Linked DNA regions of Homo sapiens: region 1 is linked to region 2. The links come from fine-mapping of genetic effects on gene expression. A gene starts in region 2. The other region holds a variant in brackets. All regions are shown on one strand. Distances are from middle to middle.

The links. PIP is the estimated chance that this variant, and not a neighbour inherited with it, causes the effect.
Region 1: its variant is fine-mapped to the expression of KLHL29 in whole blood (TOPMed, PIP above 0.99).

The regions. Positions count from the first base shown.
Region 1 is chr2:23,526,658-23,542,206 of GRCh38, reverse strand. The region is part of intron 2 of KLHL29 (kelch like family member 29); the gene reads right to left. LOC105374325 (a long non-coding RNA gene) reads left to right here and starts at 11,899. Exons shown (of 2, transcript XR_939831.2): 1 at 11,899-15,549. RefSeq lists enhancers at 5,415-6,290, 9,154-9,213. The variant A/G (reference allele first, on the strand shown) is at 9,171.
Region 2 is chr2:23,379,303-23,394,851 of GRCh38, reverse strand. It overlaps KLHL29 (kelch like family member 29), which reads right to left and starts at 9,673. Exons shown (of 14, transcript NM_052920.2): 1 at 9,072-9,673. It overlaps LINC02923 (long intergenic non-protein coding RNA 2923), which reads left to right and starts at 7,534. Exons shown (of 6, transcript NR_187213.1): 1 at 7,534-13,631. RefSeq lists silencers at 7,787-7,836, 8,007-8,176, 8,197-8,316, 8,557-9,416, 9,587-9,936 and 1 more and enhancers at 11,440-11,734, 14,058-14,277.

The DNA.
Region 1 (15,549 bases), 150 kb before region 2:
GTATTAACCAGGGAAGAAATATAATTGCTAAATTCTGAGAGGCTATTTTAGACAAGAGATCAAAGGGTTGGAAATTAAAAGAAAACAAAACACTGCCACCACCCTGGTTGCCTGACTCAGCCCTTTAGACTTCTTAATGCCATTTCCCAAGGCCATCAGTATGACGACAATGACTTAACAACAGGCAGCACACAGCCCAACCCCTCCCAGGAGAGCTAATTACTTCCCAGGATTAATTCTTCAGTTTTCTAGACAGTTTGAGCAGCTGCACCACTACGGCCATTGCCAGAAACAAGAGCTTCTGGATGGAAGACACACCTACTGTTTCCCAGGATCTGGACTTGGGGCCTCAATCCACAAATCATCTCACACAAGAAGGCACCAGCCCTGCTGCTGTCCACTGGGAGCACCAGTTTTATGGTTTTTTTTTTTTTGTTTTTTGGGTTGGGCTTTTTTAAAAGCTCTTTAAAAAATCCTGTTTTCGATTGCGAGGGACTTGAGAAAGAACGGTGAATGCACTGTGTCCGAGACCAGCAATCTGGGAAGGGTTGCTGCCTCTGACACCCAGATGAGATCACCCTGCATTGCTGGTTAGCTCCTGTCTTACCTTCCAGCTACAACAAAGAGATGCACAGAGCTGCCGCTCACTTTCAGCCCACCAGCCAGCCCTGGCCAGGCACTCAGCACTGTGCTGGGGCTGTGAGTGCTGGCAGAGATGGATTTGGCTGAGGACTGCCCTCAAGGAGCCCATGGTCTGGCAGGGCTGAACCAATCCTCAAGAAGATCTGAGACCATAAGACAGGCAGAGGCTTCTGATGAGCATGGAAGGAAGCCCCTTGAGTTCTGGAGCCCGGTTCTCTCCTCTGGCCTTCTCCATAGCTAGGCATATAACTGCCCATCTTCTGTCCATCTACTTATCCATCCATCCATCCATCTACCCGTGCATCCACCCATGCATCCATCCATTCACGTCTCCCTCCGTTAACACACCAAATATTTGTTGAACATCTGTTCAGATACTTTGTCAGGCATCCAGATTCCTGTCAAGCGAAGAAAGTGAGAAAGGTTCCCAACAGAATTCAGTTGTGAAATCTGCATTTTGTCTGATCCATTCCCTCCTTTATCTGATAGTAGGATCTTTCTTTCCCACAGGGAGCCCATTAGCTATGGCTGGGTGTTGTGCCCCACCCCTGGGGTAAGCACGTGACCAGGCCAGGCAAATCAGGGTGTTCTATCCCCCTGGCCATAAGGATTGAATCAGGGTCCATGACCCAAACAGACCCAAATCCCATAGATACGATATATGAACTCCAAAAACAAAGGTCTCTCTTCCTTCAGGATCATGCCCAGAAAAGATGTAAGCAGGGCCTACTCCTGGCCGTCCTCTCTGGTCATGGGGAGGGGACGGTCTGTAGGACAGAGCATGAAGCTGGCCACAGAGGGCAGTGGAGGAGGGATGGACGAGGTCCAACAGTACATGAGTGACTGAATCTGGCTGTGCTGAAGCCTGAGTTGTGCCTCTCCATTACAAGAGTTAACACATTTTCTTTTGTGCTTCAGTTAGTTTGAGTTGGGTTCCCATCTACTGCAACCAAAAGAGTTCTATGTTCCAGTGTACCCTCAGAGAAGTGCCAAGTTCTGCGCTACTGAAGATGAGGTTTGGGATGTAAGGATGTGTCTATGTGACTCTTTGGGAAAGAGGGAGGATTTGGAGAGAAGGAGAGGAAAGAAAGATGCTCAAGAGGAAAGGACAATGTGGACCAGCACTAGCCAGTACGATTTTCTGCAATGGTGGAAACGCTTCTATGATCTGTGTTGTCCAATATGGAAGCTAGAAGCCCCCTGGGGCTGTTGGCACTTGACAATTGGCCAGCATGATCGAGGAACTGAAGTTTACATTTTATTTAATTGTAATTGATACAAATACTGGCTAGTGGCTACTGTATTGGACAGTGCAGGTGTGGACCACGGCCCCGGCAGAGGAAGTGTGAGGGAAAGTGACCACTTCTGGGGGGCTGGGCAGGTACCAGGGGGCGGGATTGCAGGACGGGAGCCTGGACACAGAAGATCCTGGGGGACATGAAGGCAAATGGCCCAGGCAAGGACTGAGGAGGGTCTAACATGGGGCAGGGGAAACAACTAGGAGCCAGAAACGAGGAAGTTCCAAAGTGGGAGGATGCCAGAGTCAACTCACAGGGCTGGTGGGCGGCACACCTGTTCCCTGAAATGAGGATTACAGAGGAGGATGGAGGTCTGAGGTGGAACGATGGGACGAAGGTTGCTTAACAGAAGTTGGAGCCTAGAGAAACAAGCTTTTGGAGTCACTGGAGTTTAGGGGATAATCGCTCAGACTGTGGAAAGAGAAAAGTATACCTAAGCTAAACTATGGAGACTGCCAAGAAGTGGCTGGAAAAAGAGAATGAGGAAATACAATGTATGAAGGAGTCAGAAGGAGGTAGGATAATGGCCAGGTGCAGTGGCTCATGCCTACAATCCTAGCACTTTGGGAGACTGAGGAAGAGGGGTCACTTGAGCCCAGGAGTTCAAGACCAGCCTAGGCAACATAGTGAGACCCCATCTCTTAAAAAAAATACAAAAATCAGCTGGTGTGATGGTGCGCACCTGTAGTCCCAGCAACTCAGAAGGCTGGGGCAGGAGGACGGCTTGAGCCTGGGAGGCGGAGGTTACAGTGAGCCAAGATCACATCACTGCACTCCAGCCTGGGTGACAAAGTGAGACCCTGTCTCCAAAAAAAAAAAAAAAAAAAAAAAAAAGGAGGCAGGATAAGGCTAGCAAAGCATCATCAGTCTGCTAGGATTATTATTGTCTCATTTTTCTTATATACAGACATATTTTTGAGATAACTGAAATCAATTCCTTTCAACATCCAATCTTAAACAAGAATAAAACATTTTAGCCATTTAAAAGATAAAATATTCTGCAGTACACTGCATACTTCCCAATCTGCTGAACAGAATTGAACGTAACAGAGACACCTAGGGCTGTGAACCAGTACGATCCCCAGGACTCAGGGATCCAGGGTCCCTACACTCATCAGCCCTGGGTGGCTGCCGTGCTTTCTAAGCGTGGATATAAAATTTTAGAGTTTGGCAGTTGCTTCACCTCTGATTAGCTTCTAGCAAAATTTTCTTGCTGGTACGATCTTTCCCAGCCCTTCTCTTCATCCTTGCCAGATCAGGAGTTTGCAGAATTTGCTCTGAATTTGGAATGCATCTAATCAATCTTATAGTCAATTTGTATTTTTTAAAGAACAATTCTGAATTAAAGCCGGAGGGATTGATGATGAAGAAAGAACGAGATTTTGTGTGCACACATTTGGTGATGCCTATTTGTTTTGTCAGTCACTCAGAGATGCCTTCTGTTCTTTCTCTCAATCTAGGCTCCAAATCTCTAGGAAAGGTTTCCAGATCAGTGAGAACTGGTGGAACAAGCAAAGGCCCTGACAATCTTGCCACTCAGAACCTCTTATTCTGAAATAGATCAATGGCACAAATTGTTACACTGTCACAAATGTGCAGCCCAGACAGCTAACAGAGTGACATATTCCACAGTGTGTCCCTCCCCACAACCAAAGATCATTCTCACATTCACCCCCACAAAGCCACAGGCACACTCTTCTGAGTGTTTGGAATGGACGTTTCAGTCACGATTTTAGCTTCCTGTATGGCAGAGAGAGGCTGGGATCTGGGTAGCAAGGAGCTGACAAAGGATGACAGATAATCTCCTTGTTGAGGGTCTAGGCCAAAAGCTTTTAGACATCTTGATAAAGATAAAACAGAATAAGAATGGAGCCAAACAGATAGGAGGGAGAATTAGGAATTCCAGCTTTGCACCCATGCCATCTGGCTTCCTTAAAAGTGAAACTGACGTCAGGCATCTTTGTTTCTCAAAGTGTGGTCCTTAGGTCCAGCATCACTTGAGAGCTTTTAGAAATGCAGAATCCATTGAGAAGGGCTGCCTTACTTGGTTCATAATTCTATTTCTGTGGCCAAAGGAATCCTGGACTACGAGTCAAGAGAAACCCGAGATCCATCCTAGTTCTGCTACTTATTGGTGGTATGAATTTGAGTAAGTCCTTGCTCCTTCTGGTCTGTTTTCCCAAATACTAACTGGGGTCCAGCCAAACGGGCTCAGTGATCCACCCTCGTTCTAATTCTCAAAGTGAGATCTGTAGGTACCCTCAGTGCTTCTGGAGCAACTTTCCTTTACAGACCAGAGCCTCCTTTTTCCTCACACATAAATCATCATGGGGTTTTGGAAGTATTTCCTACTGTCATGAAGGCTGTGGCATGAATCCTGCCACCCTTTGGACACATTCCAAAGCCTCTAACAGCCCAAAGTGTCAAACCAGGATCCAATGAGCTCCTTGAGAACCCAGCCTTCCATCCCTAAGTAGACTTGGTGGTGCCAGCTGCCCTGAGCCCTGCCTCTCCAGTTTCCCACCCGACATGCAGCTTCTTGCAGGTGGCCAAGCTCCAGATGCCCCACATCTCAGCAAAGAGCGATGAACCATCCCTTCCCAAATACCCAGATGGGGCCTCCTACTTCCTTTAGTCCCTGCAGTTCTGTGCTCCAAATTCTGCCAACAGATGAATCCTAGTATCTTGTATGGTTATAACAACTCTGCATTCTAAGCACTAATGCACCTGACATAATATTGGGCATGAGTGGTTACACAGGATGCCTCCTCCCGATCTGCTGGAGAAGCGTGTGCGTGCCTGTGTGTGTGTGTGTGTGTGTGTGTGTGTGTGTGTGTGTGTGTGTGTGTAGTTTCTGCCCACCGCAGGAATCGGCAGCTCAAACTCAACTAGAAGTTACTCGTCCTTCCTAAAGGACTTTCAATGCCCTTCCCTGCACTGTAGTATGATGGAGAAGGCAAAAGGGGGAAGCAGACCCCTCCCACTGAGGCAACAGAGTGTTCAGAGGGTAGCCAGGGGCACAGAAGCGGCAGCACTGCCCATGAAGGGTGGTGGCAGTGGCACCCACCAACTGAATTAGCCGACAGAGCCCGAGAGCAACCAGTGACTGAAAGGGAACTCAGGACAAATGCAAATTCAGAGACAGAAAGTCAGACTGCAAGAAAGTGGCATCCAGGGGCAAGGTGGCGTGGGACCAGAGTAGCATGTGCACCTCAAGTTTCTGCCAAGAACAGGGACGTAACGGACAAAATGGGGATGCCAGCAGGTCCAGAACAGCCCTTTACACCACACCTGAAGGAGAGAGAGCGAGAGAGGGAGAGAGAGAGAGCGAGAGAGGGAGAGAGAGAGTGTGTGTGTGTGTGTGTGTGTGTGTGTGAGATCTGTCTTTCGCTATTTCGTTAGTAGGAAGGGAACCAGAAGTTTGTCTCAGAATGTCACTCTCTTTCCTTTACTATAGGCATGGTACCTACTTATCTACATCAACCAGAACATAAACAGTACAGAGCTTCTTTTCACAGCACAGGCTCGGGCCCTTCCAATAGATTCTTTCTTTGTCCTCCTAACGGCCTGACTGCAGCAAACCTTCACGGAGAGAGATCAGGACTCAAGAATCCAGCAGTATTTTATAAACGAAAAGGTTGGCAGCCCCCTTCACAGGCTGCTGTGCCGAGCTCTCTCTCCTCTGAGCATGGGAAGGGTTGCCTGTGAGTTTGATGGGCCAGGCCTTCTGCCATTCAAAGAACAAATCAAAAATGGTCCCTGAGGCAAAACGGGGAGAGTCAGCCTCCTTTAAACTCTCCACGGCAGGCCTGCTCAGGCCGGCACCAGCCCCCTGCTGCGACAAGTACCCGGGTATCATTCTGAATTACAGGCCAGGAGCCAACCCGCTCTGACAGCCAAGCTGCCGTCCACACAGCGTACTCTAATTTCCGCAGCTTGGAGCCCCTTGGGTCTTGAGGATGGGGTCACCCCAATCATGATGCTGGGAGTTGCTGGGGCGATAAAGTAAAATTCACCCCTCCATCATCAGCTTCAGGATACACGTTGCCCGAGAGAGTCAGATGGGAAAATCAAGTTAAACCAGTGGCGCGATATGTGGTCACCCACCTTTGTCTTGACAAAAGGACCTGGCATTTAGGAAGGATACCTGTCGCTCTGAAAGGGCCTGGCAGTCAGAGAGGGCTTCTGTTTCCCACATTTTGATTCTCAGACCAGAAACCACATCCTCTGCTAAGCAGTCCCCTGAATGATAACATTTAAAATGTTGAAATTTAAGGGGGCCAGGAGGCTGCCTTAGGCCTGGGATTCTTTCGTTGCTCTTCTTTATTCTTTTTATTGTAATCAAATATACAAAACCTAAAACCGACCATTTTAGCCATTTTATGTGTACACTTCAATGGCATTAAGTACATTCTCAATGTTGTGTAACTATCACCACGATCCACCTCCAAAATGTTTCATCTTTCCAAACTGAAACTCTGCCCACTAAAAACAATAACTCCCCTTTCCCGCCTCCCCGAAACCCTGGCACCCACCGTTCTACTTTCCGTCTCTATGAATTTGCTCTAGGTACCTCGTATAAGTGGACTCATACCATATTTATCCTTTCCTTTGTCTGGCTCATCTCATTTAGCATAATGTCTTCAAGGTTCATCTATGTTGTAGTAGGTATCCATGACTATAGCATTCCCTTTCTTTTTAAGGCTAGATAATATTCAATTGTATGTATACAACACATTTTGTGTATCCATTCATTAATTAATGGACACCTGAGTTGCTTCTACCTTTTGGCTATTGTGAATAATGCTGCTATTAACATGGGTATACAAATATCTGTTAGATTTTACATTAATTTTAATCTTCTCTTCTCCTGTGAGAGGCAGGCCTCAGCCTGTGGCCGTGTGAGGCTTGGCTCTGATTCTTTGGAGGCAGGCCAGGGTGAGGTCTCCTGGGAGAGGGTGGCGAGGCACCTGTGTGTGGAGTCCTAGCTCAGGACTTAAAGGGTTAAGTTCCACAAATGCAGAGACTGTTCTGTCTCTTTTCCTCCCAGAGCAATCCTGTGCCATGCTGGCATGAGCTGCATTTCCCAAGGCCACAGGAAGACCACAACAGGCCCCTGTATCCAGCCTGTCTGGTCAGGCCACATTTTAAAAAAATTAACTAATTTTATGGAGATATAATGTCCATAAAGTAACTGTCCAAATCTTAAGTGCACAGTCTGATGAGTTTTGACAAATGCATGCACCTGCCTAACCACCACCCCAATCATGATACAGACCATTTCCATCAGCCCAGAAAGTTCCTTTGTGCCAGACGCATTTTAGCAGCTGCTTTTAGGGCCAGTCGATACTGCTGCAGCATCAACAGGATTAGGGGATCCAAAAAGCCTGCAGGGGGTTCTAGGCTGTGAAATCCAAGATGCCCTCAGCTCTAAGTGACCAGAAAAGGCACTGTTTTTTCTTTCTAATTCTGCAGTTGACTAGTCACCCACAGTAGTCTGTCAAGGGAAGTTTTGAAGCACTGGAGCCTCAAAGAGACTGTGGGACCTCAGCTTCACTCAACAACTCAAAACACATCCACTCTATGAGCCTCTGTGCCATACACAGAGCTGGGCCCTGCTGTGGCAGGAAAGGGGCAGCTCAGTGTAGCTGGAGAGACACTGAGCAGAAGAGAAGGAAGACGGGAACTTGGGCTGGAACAGAAGTTAGCATCTGTGATGCTGCAAAGAAATAAGTCATTCTGGCTAAGGCCAAACAGGAAGGCTTCTCGGAGGTGGGGGCATTCATAGTAGCCTCTGAAAGGACGCAAAGGATTTCAATAGAAAACAATAAAGAGAGGAAAATTCCACGCTGGGAAGACATAATGTGTCAACAAAGGCATTGAGACATAATAACCATCACTTATTAAATGCCTGTTAAGGAACAGGCATTGGGCTAGGTGTTGCACAAATGTGATTTTATCTAATAAAAATAACAATGATGAGAAGGACCCTACAAGGTAAGTCATACTAACTGCAATGTGGCCAAGTGACTTCCCAGGTTCACAAAGCATTGTACCTGGATTCAACACCAGGTCTCATGATCTGAAGCCCCGGTTGTCCTGTTTCCTGTGCTGTGGGAAGAAACACGATAAAATGGGTGCTGCTCAGCGGGATGTCAGACAGGAATCCCTGGTTGCTTGGAAAGGCATCCCCGAAACCGGGGACTTTCAACTATTGGCGGGTCCTTACTTGGTTCAAATATCAATTAAAATATCAGGAGGACTATTACATACCCCAAAAAGAGCTGTGGAAACACCTCATAGCGCACACGTTTCTTTAAAAAAAAAAAAACAACAGACACCATAGGAAAGTCTCATGTATTTAAAATAAAGGGAGTTAATTAGTAAATTTGTTTTTTCTGAAAGCAGTCTTATTGATACAAAATAGCCCAAACCGGGTTCACAAAGGTTGAAAACAGAGTTAGCTTATAATTAGCATTTCAACTGTCCACAAGCGGATCTTCTAGATTGTCAGCACAAGGAAATTCTGTTCTCTTCATTGGCGTAAATGCCCCAATTCTTATTTACACTGTTAGTCCCGGGAGAGTGGGGGGTCCTCACACTGTTACAAATGCCATCACCCAGCCCAAACGCCGCACCCCATCTGCAGCTGCCAGGGAAGGAGCTTTCAGGGAGCTCCCAGGTCTCCCAGCTTTGATCTGCGAGCCAGCGCCAAGGCTCCCCAGAGGCTGCACAGAGCTGCATCTACGACCCAGGGCTCCTTGTTTTGCATCAGCTGCTTCACTCCCGGCAGAGGCTCACGTTTTCTCTGACGCCAAATGCCATGAATCCTGCTGGGCCAGGAGCTACAAGTCTCCACAGGACCCCTCCCTGCTTAGACCATCCCAGCTTTCTTTCCAAAGGGGGTAGAATGCCAGCCCCAGAGGGTGGGGGAACTCTCAGAAAAATACTTCCCTGGATGCAAGAGTCCGCATCAAACCCATGCCCTAGGACTAGCCCACAAGCAGCCACATCAGAAGGCACTGCTTACTTGTGCACACACAGATCTGCACACACTCACACATACGCATGGTTTCTCTGCTGCCTTTGACCCCCAGGCCTGCCGTATGTGTACACCTTTTCCTCCCCCAATATCTCCAAACCACTTTACGTGCTCAGGAAAAACTGAGAGACGCTCTCACACAGGGAAGCCACTGGTTGGCAGAAAATCCCTTGAACTCGTCAAAGACC[A/G]GGCCAGGCAGCACCTTCTGCTCCTCAGCTTGGGGGCCTGTGAGTTGCAGAGACGTAGAGGGAACCCTCCCCTCGGCCCCCAGGCTTTCTCACCGCCAGCTGAGCTCCTCCTCTCGGCCCACGTGCACACACAGCTGTGGGGCTGTCTCCCTTCTCAACAAAAGTTCGTCTCTCTCCAGTTGGTAGCCTGGAGCCGGGCCAATCCTCCCCTTACCCTGAACGCGCCTCGATTTGCAGAGGCCTGTGGCGAACAGTCTCCCTGCCCTGATCCTTCTCCCCGTGCAGAGGGTGTAGTGGGTGAGGCTGGGAACACACCTCCTCCCACCTGACACCCACCCCCATGCTGACCCCAAACCACAGGCCTCTAGTGAGCTCCCCACCGCCCAGGCCTCAGTCCCAAGTTAAGATAATCTTACAATCTTGTCACTCCAGTGGTGCATTCTTGAAGGAAGTGTTTTAGCTTCAAAGGAAAGTGAAAGTGAGATTTTAACATAGGAGCAAGAAAAAGTCTAACCTTGGCGATGCACATCCCACAAAGCTCCACTAGCAGGGGCCTGGGTGCCGCCCTGGGTGCTGCCCTGGGTGCAGAGGGTGCGTGGGCTCCCCATTCCCTTCACCAGCTCCCACCGTCTCCATTCTGCTTCAAGCCAAGCACACTGCAAACCAGAGTACTTTTTCTCCTTGCCAGTGAGCCGGTGTTGTCTATGTACTGCAGGAGGAGGCCATTACAGGGAGTTAATAGAGTTTTAAATTTGTTTTTAAATTTTACAATGCACTTCATCAAATTCAGTGTCTGAGCACAGCATCATGTTCAGACCAGGCAGCACATGTCAAATGGCCTCAGCCTTCCCCTCCACCCCTCTCCCACCAGGAAAGGTTAACTCTTTGGAGTAACTCCCAGGCATGGCCCCAGTGGAGCGGGTTCTGGTCTGTGGGGGGTCGTTGTGGAATAGGCCCAGTGGAAAGGCTGCTGACTTATTTGAGATGCTCTGGGCAGCTTCCATGGTCAAGGGCCGTCGAGGCTTCCACTGGGCCTTGGTCGTCCCGTTGAGGTCCCTTACTGAGGTGGCACTTGGGAGTCGTGGCGACTTGGTTCTTTCAGGTTCACATCTCTATGGTCCCAGGTGTCAAAGAGGGTGAGAAAGTATCCAGGGCACAGACGTGGAAAGCAAATAGTATAGTGCAGTCTGCTGATGAGGAACAGATGGGAGCACATTTCTGCTATTTTTCACCCAGAAGGATTTCCTTTAAGGACATGTTCAGCTGAACCTAGGATCATTATTGTAACTTGGGATCAGTTGCTGCGGAATTGGAAATAAGTGAGATTTATGGGCCCACGGTTTTGTGAAGAGCGTCTTGGGTACCAGGACTTGCGGCAGGTCTTCTCTGTCACTAACTGCAGTCAATCTGGCCTTTTATTAAGCTTTAATAAGTGACTCTGGTTCTAGGGAAAGTTCCGGAATAGATATTACTGGCAAGTGAAATCCCGTTGGTCCCAGGGCAGACTGCAATAAAGCAGCTCCGTCCTGGCGGCTCGGAGGCAGGGTCTCAGCTCACTGAGGCCACAGAGCCCCACGAGGGAGGCGGAGGGTCCCCTTGCCAGAGCAATCTGGTAGTGGGTGGGTGGGGGATGGAACTGATGGGGACGGTCGCCTGTTCTTCTCCCTTGAGCATCACAAAACTGAGCCTCACCCCCCAAATAGGTCCCATGTTGGCAGTGGTCTGCTTTTGAAACGTCCCAGGCAACAAGAACCCAACATGCCTGTTTTTGGTTAATGGAACCCACAGGGTGGCTGCACCCTGGTCCCAGCTGTCTGGCCACCACGTGGCAATGACTTTCGCTCACTATTTATTTGAAACTTGTCTGTACAGGTGACGAGGAGGAGACAGGCTTCTCAGCCAGGCTTCTGCCGAGTCCCAGATACAGTCCCAGCTTACCCCCTCTACCTCACTGTGCATCCAGGTGTCAACCTGAACTTTGCACTTCTTAAAACAAACATCCTACAGATAGAAAACGAACCCTTCTGTGAGGCCACACACCCAGTTAAACACCCCACCCTACTTTTCAACTCTGGGGAGACTCTGCCCATGTCTGCATCCTTCCAGACAGAGCTCTGTGCTCTGTGTATGGCTTCAGGTTTTCCATTTCTAAGTTCATACAGACACAAAGCTGGTGGGATGGGGCAAGAACCCTTGGTGGCCTCCACTCTCCTGAGCAGATTCAGAAGCAGATGCTAAGAACTGGGCCCAGGAGGGATGTGGGAGCTGGGGTGGAGCTGGGCTTGGCAGCTGGGCGGGGGCAGGGGATGGGCTGGGATGGAGGGAAGAGCATCTTGAGGTGATGGGAGTCTTTTTGCATTCAAGGGCTTGCTGGCTTCCAACTTGCTACTTACTGCATTGAAAAATATTCCACACGATGGAAGAACTATTTTCCAAAACAAAATGCTAGTATTCATCAGGAGGCGCGGGTTGTGCAGTGTGAACAATTCACTTTCGTTAAGTACCATATGGCCGCTGGTAGGAAAACGCTAACATGTTTCAACAGTACAGCTGGGGGAGGGCTCCTTTATTCACCGTGCAGATGGCTCTAATTGACATCTCTCCTAAAACAGGTCTCCAGCATTTCTGCAGGATCATTAGAGTAATTAGTTATTAAATACCATCACCACTTTTAGAGAGGGGGTCTGATCCTTGGCAACATTCCAGCGTGATGGAACTGACAGGTTGGGAGGACAAGCCGTGGGAGGGCCCATGGAAAGGGCTTACGAGCTCCTCCTCTTCAATGGCAAGGCCAGAAGAGGATAAAGACTTCGCTGATTCCAGAACAGCCTCCTGGAGAGAACTCAGGCACCCAGAGGGCTCTACGCCACAGTACTAGAGCCAGCCCTGCCTCTTTGGCAGTGTGACTGTGTACACCCCTCAACCACCCAGCCTCAATTTATTTATCCCTTAAATGGGGGTAATAGCAACTGCCCTTCCAGCCCTGCAGAACTGAAGCCACATATTGAAGAGCACATGGAAAGAGCCGGACTGAAGTGCCGCAGCTGAGCCGGTCCTGATGGCTGTGTTTGACACCTAGCTTGATCCATGCTCACCACTTTGGTGAGTGACAAGCCGTGGCCTCTCAGGACATGGGCACACCTGAGACTCAGTCCTCGATACTGCAACGGGCAAGCCTTTGTCATGCTGCGACCAGAGCTCAGTCTGCAAATGCGGCCCCCCAGGCTGTCTCAGGACGGGTGGCGGGCTCAGCCCTGCCTCCATGAACCCCAGAGCCAGCCCGCAGGTGGAGGCTGGTCTAAGCTAGGTCCTGTTTCTGTACTAGACCTATTATACTCTACTCCCCAAACCAGCCCTTGAAAACAGCCCTCACACCTGCCCTCACTCGCCTCTTCGGTATGCTCATCACCTCCAATCAGCCAGGTCTATACCAAGCCTGTGCTTTGGTGGGGGCGGGTGGGCAACAGGGGCTGAGGTGGGGGGAAGGGAGAAGCAAAATAAGAAAAACCATGACCCCTGCTCTCTCTCATGAGACTGAACACACAAAGGTCTCAGCAAACCCCATACTGCAGCATGCATAGTGGTGGAGTGAACCCAATATCCATTTTAAAATGGAGCTCTTAGCCAGCTGCAGGGGCTCATGCCTGCAATCCCAGTGCCTTGGGAGGCTGAGGCGGGAGGATTGCTTTAGGCCAGGAGTTCAAGACCAGCCTGGGCAACATAGCAAGACCCCCATCTCTACAGAAAATGGGGAAAAAAATTAGCCAGGTGTGGTGGTGTGCATCTGTAGTCCCAGCTACTTGGGAGGCTGAGGCTGTAAGATCCCTTGATCTCAGGAGTTCTAGGCCTCAGTGAGCTATGATCGTGCCACTGCACACTGCAGCCTGCGTGACAGAGCAAGAACTTGTCTCTAAAAAAAATTAGTAAAAAGGGGCTTTTCAGCCAGTACTATATACTTCGGCCCTACGTATGGTTAGAGGGTGGCTCAGCATCATCCCCAAAGAGAGGTTTCTAGTGACAAGAGGCTTAAGGGTGGGCTGGGGGCCATGAGGATCACACTTTCAGCAGAAGTTCTGAGTCCCACTCCCAAGGCCCAAGGGGCACCCCTACCCCAGCCAACTTGCAGACTCGGTTCTATCTTGGCCTTCCACACCACACACACGGCAGCACCGCCAGGGTGGCCGCAGAGATAGCACTGCGAGTCAGGCTGCGCTGGCAGGAAAGAAAGGCGGTCTGGGGATGTGTGCGCCCCTAGGATTTCTTTAAAAAAGTAAATACGTGTGTCCAAAGGGTAATATGGATCTAGGAAGTAGCCTTCACTTTGAGCTCAGTCCCCATTGATTGAGGGTTAACAGCGTGACATTATTAGTTTAATTTCACAGTCTAATCAGTTTCCTGCTTTATTGATCAAAGGACTTGGAGCAATTGTAATTTTGGGAGGCTGAAAAGTGAAATTCTGGGCTAAGGGAATAAAGCCTGGAGGCTCTCTGGGCTCAGGGTCCATGCAAGGGAGCGCGTGGCCTCGTCCTGTACAGCCCACCTTATAAGGGCTGCAGGGTCCACAGGTGACATCTCCAGTCACGTCTTCTTCCTCCCACTGTTGAACCACACGGAGAGTGCAGGAACTAGTGACTAACCAGCATCGGAAATGGAGACCAGCCTCGGAAACAGCCCCTCGCCCCACAACACCCAATCCCACACCCACCTCCAGCCATTCCGAGCCCCAAACCGGCCCAGGGCTTCATTGTTAAACACCCTCCGTCAGCAGAGCCCCATCTGTGCGATGGAATTTTTTTTTGTCACTTTTTCAAATCAGAATAGAAACAATTTTTAGTCTATAATTACCATTTCTTTTCTCAACAGACAAATGTTTCCTTTTAAATTGTAGGGCAGAAAAAGCAAAGAACAACATTTTAAACCAAAAAGAAAGACTAAAATTAATTTCTTCTTTACAGAAAAATAAAATACAACAGCTCTTAGAAGCCAGGTTTTTCTTTTCCCAAAAGAGCAACAAATGCAACAGTGTATTCACAGCCGCCATTAACTCCCATTTTAGAGGCAGGTCCCAGAGGGGTGGTGGTGATGGGGTCTGCAGTAGCCTGGGGGCCTTGCACCTTGATCTCCTGGCAGAGCCTGGGCTGCTCCTGATGTCTACGTTTGGTTGGGATGAATGGTCCAAAACCTTCAATGCAGAAAGCTGACTCGGGGTTTAGGGCTCCAGGAATCAAGATCAAGGCCTGGGGACTACCAGTTGCTCCTATGGAGGCTTGGGGTGTAAGCTAACCACCTGGCCCTCAGTTTCCTCACCTCTGAAATGAGAGCACAACCCATGTGGCGAGGTTGTTGGACAATTTCGTGGGCTGCGTGTTTTGGAACTCGAGAACACTGAACCAATCCTACTGCTTTCACCGTGCTGTCAAGACCAAGCCGACTCTTCGCTGAGAAAGGCTCTAGCTCTGTGCCCGGAGATGAACAGCCTCTAAGTTCTGCTCACAGCCTCTAAGTTCTGCTCACAGCTTTCTAAGCAGGCAAGCCTCTCCACCCACCCCAGGAAAGGGCAGTCCTTCCCTGCTCTGGGCTCCACAGTCTCTGAGCAGGCAGAAGGGATGCTGCAGACAGCATGGCGGGGCTTTTGCTGGGCAACACCCACGAGGGCCCTGCAGACACAGTGTGGTATACTAATGCTGCCCAGCCCCCACCCTGGGGTGGCTGGGGGGCGTGATTCTGAGGGAGGGGCAAGCACGTGCTGGCTCTAAAGGGGAGAAGAAGCAGGTCGCATTTAAGGACTGGAAAGAGGTCCAGTGTAGCTGGGCAGGGCCTGCTCAGGTGATGAAGCAGAGGCAGGAAACACACGTGTCCTCCGTGTGAGCCGTGTCTAGGGTCTGGGAGCCCATGTTAAGGAGCCTGGTTTCAGAATGGGCCAACATGGCCACCGTCGCCCAGTTCTCCTGGTTGAGGCTCCATCCCCACTCCCCATCCTAGCTTCCTAGCAGGGAAGTGACACAACACATGTCCACCAACGCAGGATACCAGCCCCGTGTGGTCACTGCTCAGCCCACCATGCTAACCCCGAGCACGAAACCCTGCGGGGGCTCCCTGTTACCCAGAGCTATACTGGTAAATGTTTAACACCCGGCTCTGCTGGTGGTGGTGGACAAAAAAAACCCACCCAGACCCTGATGTGCATGCAGCGTTCATCAGTTTCTGTTGTATAAATATTCCCACTGTGGCCGTTTCGAGCTACCAAGGTGCTGTCTCCTAATGAGGAGCTGGGAAGAGACGTTAACAATGGGCTCTTGGGAGCCACGGAGCCAACCCCAGCTCACCCCACGCTAGAGACTTGTGAGCTGGGTGTGGAGGGCAGGCCACAAAGGTGCTG
Region 2 (15,549 bases):
CACCTAAGCCTTGCAGGCAAATTCAGAATTGAATTTTTGTTCCATTTGCAAAGATGAGGCCAGCACATTTAAGTCTGAAGGTACTTGAAATCATACTGGTGAGTCTCTTTAAATTTATTTCACACTTTAAAAGAAAATTAGCTGGACCTCAACTTACTATGTCAACTGTGATAATCAGTGAGCAATGTGGCTAAACATATGATTTTTTTATTCAAATAAGCAATTTATATTTCCTAGAAAAGGGAATATTGGCTCTCTTCCTTCTCCATAGGTAGGCAGGTGTCTGGAGGACAGGATCCTTCCTCCCTGTAACCCATCCGGCACCCATCATAGGCCTGGCACCCATGTTTGTTGATCTGAACTTGGGCAAATGCTTGGATCTCTCTAAATCAGCTGCAGAATAGCAATACCACCACTGTGAAGTCACCCATGCGACAGGGTGAGCAAAAATGAGATGCCACAGGAAAGGCAGTGCTCTTCCCACTGTGCCTTCTCAGTAAACAGTTATTCAATCTACCCTCATTTAGAAGCTCCAGGAGCTGAATATATATCCTTAAAGTTCCCTGGGAGGCTAAGCTTAGCTGCAGGTTTGATCCAGAAGCAGATGCTTAAAGCTGGAAGACGTGAAAAGTGAAGGTAAAGGAGAAAGGGAAGATTGTTTTTGTTTTTTGTTTTTAATCCCAATTTCACCGCTCTTCACCACTTCTCAGTGTTACTAAATGACCAAAAGGAAAGCAGGGATGTTCCGGCCGCTGTTGGGTCTTTAATTTGATCTAAGCCTTTGGCGTATGCTTTGCACAAAACAGAGACACAGAGTCCTCTTGTCTGCTCTTCCCTCACCGCCCACACCTCCAACTTGCTTCTAGGAGCTTTGTGGGGAAGCCTCAAGAAGAGGAAGCCTCATGCTTGACATTACTTCTAGGGTAGAGACAAGCCCAGGGGGAAGGGAGGGGCGGCAGCAGAGCTACACAGGAGTGACCGTGCCAGTGCCGGGCCAGCAGTCAGGTGGGGCCAGCCTCCCCACACCCCAAACCTCCTGTGTGGTCCAGATCCCAGGCACTGCAACCACGTCTTTCTCAAGGAGAATCTCAAACTGAAGAAGTCCCTCCTTGGCTGAATGTAGGTTGAAAGAGTTAAAACAGAGCAAACACATTTTTGTGGTGTGTGCTCCAGGCTCTATTCACACCCATCTCGAGAAAAAACTAATATAAAGAATAAAAATAGAACAGAAGAAGTTGGAAAATACAGTGTTATCGCCCTTCCCAAAGTGCCTCTGTGATTTCCAGGTGTTTCATTTTTTCCTTAAAACGATGCTTTTGTGAACTACTACAAATTTTGAAATCTGAGCAGAGACAACAACCCACAAGGAAAGCCCCTGAGAGAGGACAGACGGCACGGATGCTCAGAAGCGCCAGACAGACCCAGGTTGTCACTGCAACGATGAAGCTCCAAGAGAGAATTAGTCTTCAAAGTCTCAAATCATAAATCCTAGAAGATTCCATCCAGATTACAATTCATCAATAAGCATATTTAATAGATATATGCCCAAATATAGCATCAAAAATTCCACACAATGACAAACCATGAACATGTGACTACACAGCCACGGAGTGAAAAGAACATCCAAAAAGTCAGCTTTGATGTCTGTTATCTGACACCTTCTCCAGGCAAACATTTTTACCAGAGTTTTGTGCCAGGCACCAGGCTATGCATCGGTATGCAAACATGAACAAGCCCGGGTCAGCGATTAGTGGTTCTAGATGAATCTTTAACCCTTTCTACATTGTTTTTATTCTTTGATTTGCTATTTATTTACTATGCTGGCTCAAGATGGAAACAGACGCCATTCAAACACCTAAAAGTTTTTCTCATTAGCCTTCCAGAAACCACAGTAAATGGAAGCAGGTGCGCAAATCCAAAAGGTATCATGCATGTTGGTCAGACTTGATTAATATTGTTATTTTAGCTCACATTCCTTCTACTAGATTGATTTTACATAAAATGTTAATTAGTATAGACAACACAGTACCTGGTACAGGCAGTATGAAGTGGTGCAGATGCATGGGAAAAAACAAAGACATAGGCGCATGTGCACACACGAATAGGGGTGTGTGTGCAGAAAGGAAAACACAGACAGACTGGTAGCTGAGGGATCTGTGTTCAAACCCAGCTGAACAACGTGGCTAGGTTTGTGGCCTTGGGCCAGTTGATTACCACTGAGCCTCATCTTCATTTGTAAAATGTGGATAATCCCTACCTCGAAGCATTGATATGAGGATTAGAGATAATATATGTAAAGTACTCGGATATAGTGAGCAGCCATAACTGGAAGCTATTATTATTATATTATTGGGGCTTAATAAAGGTTTGGTGATTGAATAATAGGTAGATTAGCTGACCTCAAAAATCCACATCAACTCTAAAATTATGATACTAAAGATGGAATTAAAAGTTCACACATCAAATCAACTCAAGGGTATTTTTAACTATTGGAATTGTGATGCAAATGTCTTATGCTTTTCAGAATAAGTACTGATAGTGAGACTTACAGAACATAATATATATACATGCCCTGGTGTATGACTAAAACATTTATGATTGAAATTGAACAGGATTGGCATCTACAGTTTCTGAGATCTCTAGGGGTTGCTGCTGTCTCTTCTTCCACAGCTACTTTTCCTAAGCCCCCTTTGCAAAGCACTTCCCCAGGCCACTGTAATGTGGGTTTATGGAGGTTATCTGTTTTCACCCTCACAACCACCCTAGATAGCCACTACTGCTTCTTCCAATTTCATAAAAGAAAACTGAGGCTGGGTGAGATTAAGGATCTTTCCAAGGTCACACAGCTAGGAAGCACTGGAGACGGGACTTCAACGTGGACAGGAAGCCCATGTTTCTAATCCCTCTGCAGTATCACTGCAACTAGGACAAGCCCCCAAGGAAAGCATGAGATCAGAGACACTCGGGAGGAAATGCATACACAGAAAAGGAAGAACAAATGTCAGTAACATCTACTGCATTCTTTATTGGACAGTATTCTGTGTGACTGCATTCTCACCAAGTCTCTTCAATTGAAAACTTACATAATTTGTTAGTGTTAAAAGTCAAAATAGGGCTGGGCGCGGTGGCTAATGCCTATAATCCCAGAGTGAACTTTGGGAGGCAGAGACAGGCGAATTACCTGAGGTTGGGAGTTCGAGACCAGCCTGACCAACATGGAGAAACCCCATCTCCACTAAAAATACAAAATCAGCCGGGTATAGTGGCACGTGCCTGTAATCCCAGCTACTCAGGAGGCTGAGGCAGGATAATTGCTTGAACCCTTGAACGCGGGAGGCAGAGGTGGCAGTGAGCCAAGACTGCACCATTGCACTCCAGCCTGGGCAACAAGATCAAAACCCCGTCTCAAAACAAAGAAAACATCAAAATAGCAGCAATTCCACTTCTGGGTATAGACCCAGAAACACTGAAAACAGGATGTCTTATACTCCTGTTCACAGCAGCGTTATTCTCAGTAGCTACAACATGGAAGCAACCCAAATCTCCATCAACAGATGAATGGACAAACAAAATGTGGCCCATACATGCAATGCAATATTATTCAACCTTAAAAAGGAAGGAAAGCCTGTCCCATGCCACAAGATGTGATAAACCTGGAAGACGTTATGCTAAGTTTAACAAGCCCATCACAAAAGGATGAATGTGGCATGATTCCACTCACCTGAGGGATCTAAGGTAGTTGAATGTATAAACAGGAAGTAGAATGGCGGATGCCAGGGGCTGAGGGAGGTAGGAATGGGGACATGATGTTTAACGGGTATAGACTTTCAGTTCTGCAAGACGAAGGGTTCTGGAGCTTGCTTGCACAACAATGTGAATGCTACGAATGCACAGTTAAAAATGGTAAAGGTGGCTCATGCCTGTAATCCCAGCACTTTGGGAAGCTGAGGCGGGTGGATCACCTGAGGTCAGGAGTTCGAGACCAGCCTGGCCAACATGGTGAAACCCCGTCTCTACTAAAAATGCAAAAAAATTTGCTGGGCGTGGTGGCAGGCGCCTGTAATCCCAGCTACTCTGGAGGCTGAGGCAGGAGAATCTCATGAACCCAGGAGGCAGGGGTTGCAGCGAGCCAAGATTGTGTCATTGCACTCCAGCCTGAGTGACAGAGTGAAACTCCTTCTCAAAAAAAAAAAAAAAAAAAGTAAAGATGGTAAATTTTATGTGTTTTTAAACCATGGTTTAAACAAAGTGACAGAACATATATTTGTGTATATATAACTATATATATGTATGTGTATATATATGTGTGATTATCTGTTTACAAATATATATATACACATACATATATCCTTAAAATGATCAGTGATTTTAAAATGTCAAAAACCTACAAATCATAACAATAGACACCTGTGAGGCCAATGGCAGCCTGTAAATGGCCTAGCGGCTGTCGTCTTTGCGCACGCTAGATCCCCGGCCGTTACAACCATGCTCGCCGTTCTTGTTCCAGCTTGTGAGTCATCATTTGCAGCTGCACAGTCGAGAGTCTCTGAACTACTTGAATTTCATGCAGATACCCTCTCGCACAGAAAATGAGAACTCTTCTCCTTTCTACCCTAAAGGTGGAAATGCTCCCAAACGATAAAATTGATTTCACAAAGAACTCTGTTGCTACTTCCAGTGATCAACTTGCCTCATCTTAATTGGCAGTTTCAGTTTTCCTGTTTTCAAGTGGTTTCCTTGAAGAAAGTACAGGCTGCATTTACTGTGGGAGAAGTAAGCCTGTGGCGGTTGTAGGAAGAACCACAGAGTTTGCTTTCAGGGTGGTCCTGATCTCAGCATTTTTGATCTAAGGTGCAGGTAAAGAATTTGGATACATCTTTCCTTGTTAACCAAAATTAAGACCATTTTCTATGGTAAAATTTACTTCAGACAAAAGTACATTCCAGGAATTATGCTACCTAATTTTTTAGCACATCAGGCGATGACCCCAGATTACTTAAGAAATAAAAACTGACTATCTTCTACACAAACTACAGATATTCTACCAGCTTCCAAACATTTGCGTGGATATGTGTCTAGCACAGTGAAAGATGCTAAGACAGGCCTGGGAAACATATGATTTATCTGTTTAAACATATATTCCGCCCCCCCCTTTTTTTTTTCTGAGACTAGGTCTTGCTCTGTTGCCCAGTACAGTGGCGTGATCACTGTTCACTGCAGCCTCAACTTCCTGGGCTCCAGCAGTCCTCCCATCCACTAACACATTTCTTGTTCTCCAGTCCTCTTACACAGTAACTGCCTTGGTTTATCCTCATTCAGCACAACTAAAGGCTGGATTTCTTATTCATGATGTTTCTTCCTCCTCCTATCCCCAAGTAGGCACTTAGTTGACTGATTACAGAATCACAAAGTTGGTTATAATTCCATTTCTTCATCTGACTTTGAACTTAAGTGTTCCAATTACTTTGCCTGATCCTAATAAGTCAGTAGCGTGCTAATGCTTGCCTTGATATTTCTGAAATATACAGGGTTGTGATTAGCATGGGATTGCATCATTAGAAAGCTAAGTTGAAAGTGGGTGAGCAAAATCATCACTCGCATTTAAGTAAAACTGCCTGTTCAGTGGACTTACAATGTTACTATGATCCTAGGGGCACTATATGCTGTGACTAAATATATATTGTATTTGGAAAATCCTCTGCTGTTCTGAAAACTTCTGGCTTTGACCACTACTAGAAAAGACCCCAGGACAGACCTGCTCTAATATAGTCTCGAAGTCTCTCCAAGCCAGATACAACCGATGACACAAAGAATGCCTAAGCCATAACAGTACTGGGATTTTAAAAAAAAAAAAAAAAAAAAGAAGAAGAAAGAAAGAAAAAAAGGAAGGAAGCAAAAAGGAGGAAGGAAGGAAAAACTTTAGTTAGTTCTGCTGGACTGAATTGATGTCTCCCAGCCAAAAAGTGAGAAAGCTTTACAGTAAGCCTGCTGAAAGAAAGAAAAAAAAAACCCATGTACACATACATATCAAATGAGATGCCAAAAAATGACATTAGTATTAGGGGTGCCATTTGAGTTGATGAAAAAAAATTAACTCCTTTATATCTGTATGTAGCTGGGAATAGTGTAGGCTTTTAGAAACTAGCAGGAAAAAAGAAGGAGATACTTTAAACTAGGAATGGTTTGTAGCCAAATCAATTGATAAAAGAAGGAAAAAGATGGCACAACTAAAATTGATGCCAAAGATTTATAAGGTTGACTAAATAAAAATGAATGGATCACCATGGAAATGCATGAATACTGAAATAGGCAAGATTTGAATAGACTAATGATGTGCCTCACTTAAACTGACAGGTGTTGATAACAACGGTGACACTCAATCCACACCAACCGCCACACTTCCAACATGTTTATTCCTAGAAAACAGGCTGGATTTAGAGGTTCCTTTGGTAATAGTTTATAAGCAAAATGCATTTTCCGGTCTTAAAGTGACTGACTCAATGCTCATCTACTGGAAAAACAAAAAAAAGGTTTTTATCCATTTTGTTCCTAGATATGAGGAGCTGCAGTTAGCAAAAGTCATTCTCCTGGGCTCTACTAGTCTTTGTTTCAATAAACCTCCCACAAACCTGAATTCTCAGTCTTGCTTGTCTCCCACACTGAGTACTTGAAGTATGACCACCACTCATTAGAAACATAATTAAAAAGACACAACACTAGATCCCCACCCCCCATCACATTCAGATGAAAACCAATAACCCTTAATCTATTTGTTACCATGGCTACCATAGGATATTTTATTTCAGTAAAACTCTAGGTATTTCGTTTGGATTGCTGCTTGCAAATGAAAGTTGGAGACCTATAAATTTCCATAACCGAGAGACCGAGGAGAAGAAAATGTTTTTCTTAATCACAGGCAAATATGGTTTATAAGATGTTTGTGCAGAAAAGTTATTAAAATTGGTTAGATGCATCAGCCCATAAACCAATTTAAATGCCATTAAATTCATATAGAGTTTAAAAGGCACATGTGCTAGTAATTCCCTGATTTATAGCAGGGTGATAAATCAAGTGCACTCCAGCACAATGTATGGGACGGAGACTATTCATCAGTAGCACACAGCTCCATACCTGTATAAACACCTAGATTATGGACTAATCAAATACACGCATGCCAACCAGCCTTTAAAGTATTCACTAGTGCTTACTGGACATGTTTTCTCTAAGTGTCGGAAAGAACAATCTATAAAATTGTTCATTCTCCTCCCTCACAAAAAAATTAAAAAGCTCTATACCTTCTTTCCATAATAATAATAATAATAATAATAATAATAATAATAATAATAAATCAGGAATGAGGTGGGACAAGTCTGCTGTCATTCATCTGAAAATGAAGCAATTCCTCAAATCTGCCCTCCCAGGGCTGAGTTAGTGATAAGACCACACGGCGAGGAAGAAACTCTGTAGTGACTAGACAGATGACTTTAAAGAGACTGAAACTAGTATAAATACAGCCGTAACCAGGACAGATCTGTCATTGCAAGAGGAGTCCGAATCCCAGCGTTGCTGGACTGGAGAGAGGCTGGAACCTGCAGCAGCGGGCCGGGATGCCGCTGAGCTGCCGAAGTGGAAGTTTCGCAGGCAGCAGCAGCTCGGCGTCCTCCACGGTCTGGTCCCTCCAGCGCCGAGGTCTCGCCTAATGCTACATAAATACCTGCGTCCACGATTCGCCCGGGGCGCGCCGCGGCGCAAGCACGGGAGGGAGGGAGGAGAACGTTTGCAGAGCGGCGGGGATGGCAGCGGCGGCGGCGGCAGCTCCTTACCCATCAGCATCTCTGGGGGCCCGCGCGAGGGCCCGCCAACGGACCGCGTCTGCCGCTTGGTTCCACAGCCCAGGGACGACAACTGGCTTCTCAGCGGGTGGACCCAGGCATCCGAGACTCGCGCGTGGCCGCCACCCCCTCCTCCGAGACGGCTGGCCGCAGGCAGGCAGCGCGTCCCCGCCTTCCCCAGGCAACGCAGAGGCGACCTGCCCTAAGAGCCACCTCCGACCTACCCCGGCTCCCAGCCCCGCGCTCCGGCCCCAGGCGAGCACGTCCCTCCCTTGGGGCCCGGGGCCGACGCTGCCCAGCGCGGGCACCCGCGCGGCGACCGCAGATAACCCTAGCGCTCTCAGCCCGCTCCAGGCCACGGAGACCGGGACGCGAGCCCTGGGCTCCCCCGGCCCCCCGAGGCCATCGGGGCGCGCGTTCACACTCCCACACTACACATCTCCAGGTCCACCCTGTCCCACACATCAACAACCCCTCCCCAACGACACCACCTCCTGGCCGCTTCGCCGTCCCCGTGAGCTCTCCTTTCCGCGTCCCCCCACAACACGCTGGCACCCACAAGGTGTCAAGGGAAGTGTGCGTGTGTGTGTCGGGGTGGGGTGGGTCACAATAAGGTCTGTGCGGGTTCCCTCCCGACGGTTTTCGAGCTCATCTACCTCGAAAGTTACTTGGGATTGAGTAAAGAGACCCAGTCCCCAAATGCGAGATCAGAGGACGCGAGGGGCAGAAAACCCCAACCTGGCTTCTCGCTGCACAGAGGCGCGCACCTCCCCAAAGGACAGTGCGCGCGGCCGCCCCTGGGGGCCAGCCCTCCGTCGCCTCCAGGTCTCCTGCCCGGCCGGGGCCCTGGGCCGCTCAGGGGAACGTGGCCTGGAGAGGGGCGCGCGCCGCCGGGCCCAGCAGGGGGGCTGCTCCGGCCAGGGGTCACACAAGCCTCCAGCACCTCCGAACACCGTGACAGTGGCCCCAGGCAGCCCCGGTGCATACACACCCGGGGGCAGGAAGTTTTTTCCCCCCCTTTTTTTCCCCCTGGAGCAGCGCAGGCGCAAGGGCTCCTGCAGCCTGCGAGTCCAGACGCGGGAGGCTCCTGTCGCCGCCGCCGCCGCCGAAGCCGAGCCCAGGGTTCCGGGTTCCGGCCCCGCTCCCACGCCCGGCCCGGCCCGGCCCCACGCGGCGGCCAGGACCTGGGTCTCCCTCCGGCGCCGCATCCGAGGCGCTCCAGCCCGGCCCGGCTCTTACCTCCGGCGCGCGGCTCCGGCCCCGGCCCGACGCGCAGAGAGCCCGGGGTCGCGGGTGGGCGCAGGAGGGCTGATGGAGAGCGGACAGCGCCGGCGGGTAGCGGTGGCTGGGGCCGCTCGGGTCCTGGCCGGAGGAAACGGATCCAGGTCCTCCTCCTCGCGTTCCTGCTCTCCGCCTTCTCCCCTCGTTCCTCCTCCTCCTCCGCCGCCGCCGCCTCCCGGCAGCCCAGGGAGGATGCCCGGGAGAGGGAAGTCGGTCCTCCTGCCTGTCAGCCTGTGCGGCTATGAGCGGTGCGGCGCGGCTCTCATCGAGGCGGCGGCGGCGGCGGCGGCTCCGGCAGCATCGCCCCCGCCCTCTCCCCGCAGCCGCGGCGGCCGCGGGGCTGGGGCTGGCTCCGGGCTCGCGGCTCGGGCTCCGGGCGGGGGCTGCGCTCAAGCGCGGCGACCGCCGGGGCTGCGGACGGGCGCTGCGGAGCCGGGGCCGGGGCTGGAGCTGCGGCGAGATCCGCGGTGGCGGGGACGGCGGCGGCGGCGCGGGGGCTGGCGCGGCCGCGGCGCGGGGACCATGCTCCCTTCTGGCTCGCTCCGCTCCGGGTACCGTCTGCTTTAGCTGCGAGGGAGGCGGGCTTCGGCGCGCAGCCAGGGGCGGGCGGAGCCAATCACGGGCGCCCGAGTGGGCGGGGGTGGCGGGTGGGGGAGGCGGGGCCCTCTGGCCCGGCCCGGCCAGGCCGGGCCCCGTGCGCAGTTTCCCCGGCCCGAGGGATTCCCGGCTGCCGCGCGCCGGGTCCGAGGTTGGAGTGCTCGCGGGTGTGTCCGTCGGTCCGTCCGTCCGCCGCCCCCGCCCCCCGCGGTGGCCCCCGGCTCGCCTGGCTCCGCGGCCGCGCCCGGCAGACGCACGGCGCGTGGCACGGGCTGCTCCGCCGTGGCCTCCTGGCCTTGCTGGCCCAGGGTTGGGGGCCCGGGACTGAGGCGAGCTCCCCGTCTGCTCTCAACACCTGAGGAAACTGGCGGAAAAGTTTGAGAAGGAAAAAGTCCAATCGTCTTTCAGCTTCCGCCCTCTTTATGACACTCCAGCCTTGGAAAGGAGCAGGAATTGTCCACACCTCTGAAGGACCAGGGAGAGCCCTGCAAAGTGTCCACCAGCCTTCTGAGTCAGCCCTGCCTCTCCTGGGGCGCGCGACTTTTCTGTTCATACTGACCCTTAGGAATCCAGGAAGCCTTCTCTGTTTAACAGCCTGACCAGCCTTTGATGTCTATACCGACTACTCACCCCCACCACAGCTCGCTCTCTCTCACACTGTCTACACTGACTTCTCAGTCCCACCACCTCTCGGTCTACACATGCTGTCTACACAGACCCTAACTTCTAACCCTAATAGAAGAGATTTGGCCAGAGGCGTGTGGGACCCCCAATGAGGGCTTTTCCATTATGCTAGAATATTTCACTCTGGGCACAGTCTTCTCCACCCCGACCGCTCTCCTAATCTGGTTTTTATTCCCCGACCTCTCCCTCCTCCCCTACATCCCCTTTACCTGGTTTTGAGTTTCAGAGGAAATATCTGTACCTGCCCTCCTCCTCCACCCCTGTCTGAATGTAAAGGCCTGAGGGCCCAATCCTCATCCTCCACCCTCCCTCCGCTCCCCCGGGTAAAGGCCTGAGGCCTGAGGCCTTGCTAGAAATTGGAGTTGGGGTGCTGTAGGTAGTGTGGGGAGCTGGCTGTGGGGGCCCAGCTGGGAGGAGCTGGCCTGGGGAGGGCTTTGCCAGTCCTTGCCTCCATCTACCAGGGCCAAGGAGGACTGAGCCGGTAAATATTTTCTTCTCAGCTCCCCCCCTGTGATGTCTGATCCAGGCCTCTGCTCTCCTTGGCTGTAAACTCAGCGCACGGATTGTGTCTTCTTTAATATTTTGTAGGAAGCAGAGTACAGTGTCGTGGCTGATAAATAATAAATAATAATAATCTACTGAGGGTAGCAGGAGCACTGTCAGAAATGGAATGAGGACGCCGGGGAAATGGCCCACTAGTGTCAGAATAACTGCATTTCCTGGAAAAAACATCCAACAGAGTTTGTGTGTGTGAAGCCCGGGACTCAAGGGAGGGGACAGAGCGGAGCACTTCAGGGAGGAAGCCACCCTTCATGAGGACGACAGCCAGGAAAACTGGCGTGACCTTAAGAGAGGGTGACAGAGGTGCCGAAAAGGGGAGCAGGAGTGGGGGGGAGGGGGAGAAAAGCTCCCCAAGGGTCCTCAGACAACACCTGAAGGTGATCGATAGCTTTGGTTTGAGTACTATGTCCTTCAAATGGTATATGAAAAGTGATAGAAGAGTACTAGATAGCAAAATGGAAAAAAGAGGGATTTCTTGGGATTTCAAATTGATACACAGGTCAACCCAATGCAAAAAGAAGGAGAACAAAGCCACAGGCGTGTGTCTGTTCATCCACGCTGTAGGAAGCTGTCCTCTGAGATAATCTCCATGGATGCACTGACTGTGAACATGCAGAAGTCCACCCAGCCGTATTCTGGAGTAGCGCCCTATGTGACAGCTGTAGGCACTACAGAAATGTGGCCAAGGTTTGCAGGGTCTGGGATAGGTTAAGATCTGGCAATGTGAGGCACTCACAGTGTCTTACAGATGATTTTGAATGATCCTCAGTTGAAAGAAGAAAATAGGAACTCCAAGAATCCTTATTCAGCTACCTCTCCAGATGAAGGAGAAAGGATGCTCCCAATTTCCCTGCTGGCAGCATCAGAAAAGAGAGCTGTGCTGAGGTCTTATCCAGAGGAGGACCTACTCGGGCCATGGTGGTGCGAAGGGCGCTGGTTCTGGGGCACCGCAAACTCTTCAGGGCTGAAGTTTGGTAACAGCTCACCAGGGGAGCCAGCTTGTCAGGGAGAATGAGAAAAGCTGTGTGAATTAGACTCCCAGTGGGCTTGTCTACCCTGTCCTCACCCATCCTCGTTTTATCCAAGGCTTCCTCGTCATTGATGCTCTGCCCTGCTGGGAGCTGTTTAGTGTGGACACAGCCATTTATGAAGGGTCTGCGCTGGTCTGCATATGAGTTCCATTTCAGAGTGCTGTTGTTCACATGATCTGTCCCAGCGCATCTAGTGTCTTGGCAACATAAACTGGATTTGCATTGTGTCAGGGGTCTCCTCTCTCTCTCTCTCTACGTAGATCTTGCTGGTGTCTGGGATCTTTTTTGGGTCATTCTTTGCTCTACTCTGTGGCCCATGGGATGGGCCCCATGACTGGCATGGATCTCTCTGTGTGGTTCATGGGACTCGTGTGTTGTGCCCAGAAACCTCTTACACCATGGTCAAAGATTTCTCCATGAAACACAGGATTGACTTGGTGGTGTGTTCTCCAAAAGCCAACCCTCCCTGTCCTGAGCCCCAATCTGGGCACTGGGATCAGGACTAATGTGTACACTCCAAGCAGATGGGTAGTGAAGGAGCGGACTCATAGTGCATAGGGAAGTGGACTGGAACACTCCAGGACATCCATTCCCCGCTCAGATCATAGACCATTATCTGTGCAGTCAATCAGACAAGGACTTGTACTGGAAAGGCCACCATCACCCAAGGAGGAACCAGAGGAAGTCACATCAGGAACACCTGGGGTGCCACATAAACCCACAGTGGCCAAGGTGGACTTCTGTCCTTGTCTGTGTTTATGATAATAGCCACAACAAAAGGACCTTTACCCAGTGGCTACTATATGTCAGGCACTGTACCAAGAACTCTACCCATGATATCTTGTTAATCCTCACAGCAACCTGTGGAATTGGTGTTATCAGCCCCCAAAACTGAGTTCCAGAGAGGGTAGATGAGAACCTGCAATCACACAGTAAGTGACAGTGCTGGAATTTCAGCCTGATTGTCCCAAAGCCTCTGTTCTTTTTACCCCACCAAACACACAAATGCAGTTTCTTTTGTCATTAGCCCAGTGCTTTTCCCTTGGAGTAGATACAGTAGATGCTGATTTTTGCCTTCATCAGCAAAAGTCTTTACCCCAGACACATAACTGGAGATCAGTCATAGAACAGAGAGCACTAATGTAGAAGGGCACAGGTCCCTTTGATTACTGAACACTCAGGTCACTCGGAAGAGTGGAAGCCTCATCAGAAACCTTCGGGTTTGACAGGACATCTGTTTCCAGGAGCACGGTGGGTGTAAACAGAGCAGCTGCCAGCCTCTGTCCTGGTTGGGGTTTTGTGTTTGCTGGTTTTTCTTTTTTTTTTTTTTTAAACACATTATACTCTATTAAAACCACCCCTATTTGGCATCAAAAGCATTAATAAATCCCACATAAGGCACAGTCCCTCCAGTGGTTAATCAATCCATAAAAATCTATTTAGCACCTACTGTGTGTCCAGCATTTCAATCCCATGACGTTGATTAAAGCAGGAAGTAAGGAGTCACAGCTGCCAAATTTTCACCATGGCCACCGTGCTCTGTGATGTGTCACAAAGGCATTTGCCAATCATGCAATCAACCATTTACTGAGAACCTGCTTTGTTGCTCAACTCTGTGCTGGCGACTCTCAGGAAGACAGGGAAGGTATAAGGCGGCTTATACGCCAATCATTTTTACCCTGCCTATTTTCCAAAAAGTGATCGAGGTTTCCTAATACAATACTTGGCTCTTGTTCTTGACAAGGGTTAAGATAACAGCAGTTGTTATCAAGAAATATAACTTCGTGCTCACCTGTGGGGAAGAGACTCTCAAGTGTTGTGGGGTTAAGGGGACGATTCCCTAAGAGCTAGGCTGGTCAGGATGCCTTCCTGGAGGAGGAAGGTCTAAGACTGGACCTGACAAGGCAGTTTCTGTGGGAGGCAGAGGGAGCCTAGACCAGGCAGAGGGGAAGGCAGGGGCCAGGAGGTCAGGGGAGGGAGGATTGCTGGATTGGAGGACTCATTACCATATGATCGTTTCTAAAACACGACTTGTTGTTAAGTCATTTCCTTTGGGTGAAAGTGAAAGTGTATTTCCTTCCCCCCTCCTCCCACCACCCCCAGCCCGCCAAATCAGTGAAATATTAGATTCTAAGAGTCAGAATGAAACCAGTGGTGTCTTTTTTTGGCATTCTCAATGGCAAGAATTCAGCACCTTTTTTTAGTACCACTTGTTTGCAGGTGGCAGGAGTGCTAATTAGACAGAGCCACTAACAATTTTCCTGGGTGGCTCTGATTCCCAAACTGACATGAGACACTGCTTGGGCGTTTAAGAGAGCAGCTTCCGCTCTCTCCATTGGTAATGGGATTCTTCATCCATGGTGTCCGGAGGAATGGACTGAAGAGTTGCTCAGTATATAGTTATTGGTTGTTAAATTGTTGACAGTGATCAAAATGTCACTTTCCTTTTTCAATGTTAAAGAAGGGGCCGGTGTTTCTCTATGACAGATTATTAAAAATAAGACCCAGACGATTGTTAGGATAGATTGCAAGGAAAATTTAGTTTGAATTTTAGAGTGTTTTTTCACTCACTGAAGCATGTTCACTAATGATAAAATTCAGGAGACTTTTTTTTTTTGAGACAGAGTCTCACTCTATCACCCAGGCTGGAGTGCAATGGCATGATCTTGGCTCACTACAACCTCTACCTTCCAGTTCAAGAGATTTCTCCTGCCTCAGCCTCCGATGTAGCTGAGACTACAGGTGTGTGCCACCACGCTGGCGAATTTTTATTTTTATTTTTAGTAGAGATGAGGTTTCACCATGTTGGCCAGGCTGGTCTTGAACTCCTGACCTCAAGTGTTCTGCCTGCCTCTGCCTCCCAAAGTGCTGGAATTACAGGCCTGAGCCACCATGCCCGGCCAAAATTCAGGAGACTTTTGAGAGAGGATTGAGCCCTGATAGCTCTTGGCATAAATGTATTTTTAAGCTGTTTTTAAGAAAAAAGAGGTAAAGGTCCCACCTACCTCCTGTTCAACTCTAGAATCCATCAGTGCCACTGTTTCCATCTCCCTCTGGGTTTTTGGTAGGACGTAGGGCCAGTATCAGGTTTGTAATTATGGTCATTTTGGAGCCCCCAGTTGGGCCAGAGGAAGGCCAGTGACCACTCACCCAGCACAGGTGGTGACTGCTCTGCCTTGACCGTCCCCAGGACAGGGACCCTCCACTGTCCTCTGCCCTCTGCTGGGACCCAGGCAGCCTGAGAGGGGACCCAGTCCACATGGGCTACAGGGGGAGCACAGCAGGAGGAGACAGGATGACCTCGTGGTGACTTGGCAGTGAATCTCATTTTCATCAGCTATTTATTGAACACGCCTGGGTCCAGGGCTCTGTCTCAGGTGTTACTGGTAATCACCGTACCCCCCCCCCCCCCCCCCCCCGCCCCACAGCTGAAGTAGCCTGTCACGGTCACAAGCAAATGACAGCCTGTCTTCCAAGACACACATTCTCTATTCTCCCTGGAGATGGAAGTGTTGGGGGTCAAGTTTCATGCAGCCTCAGAGTCTGAGATTAACCTCGGTTTG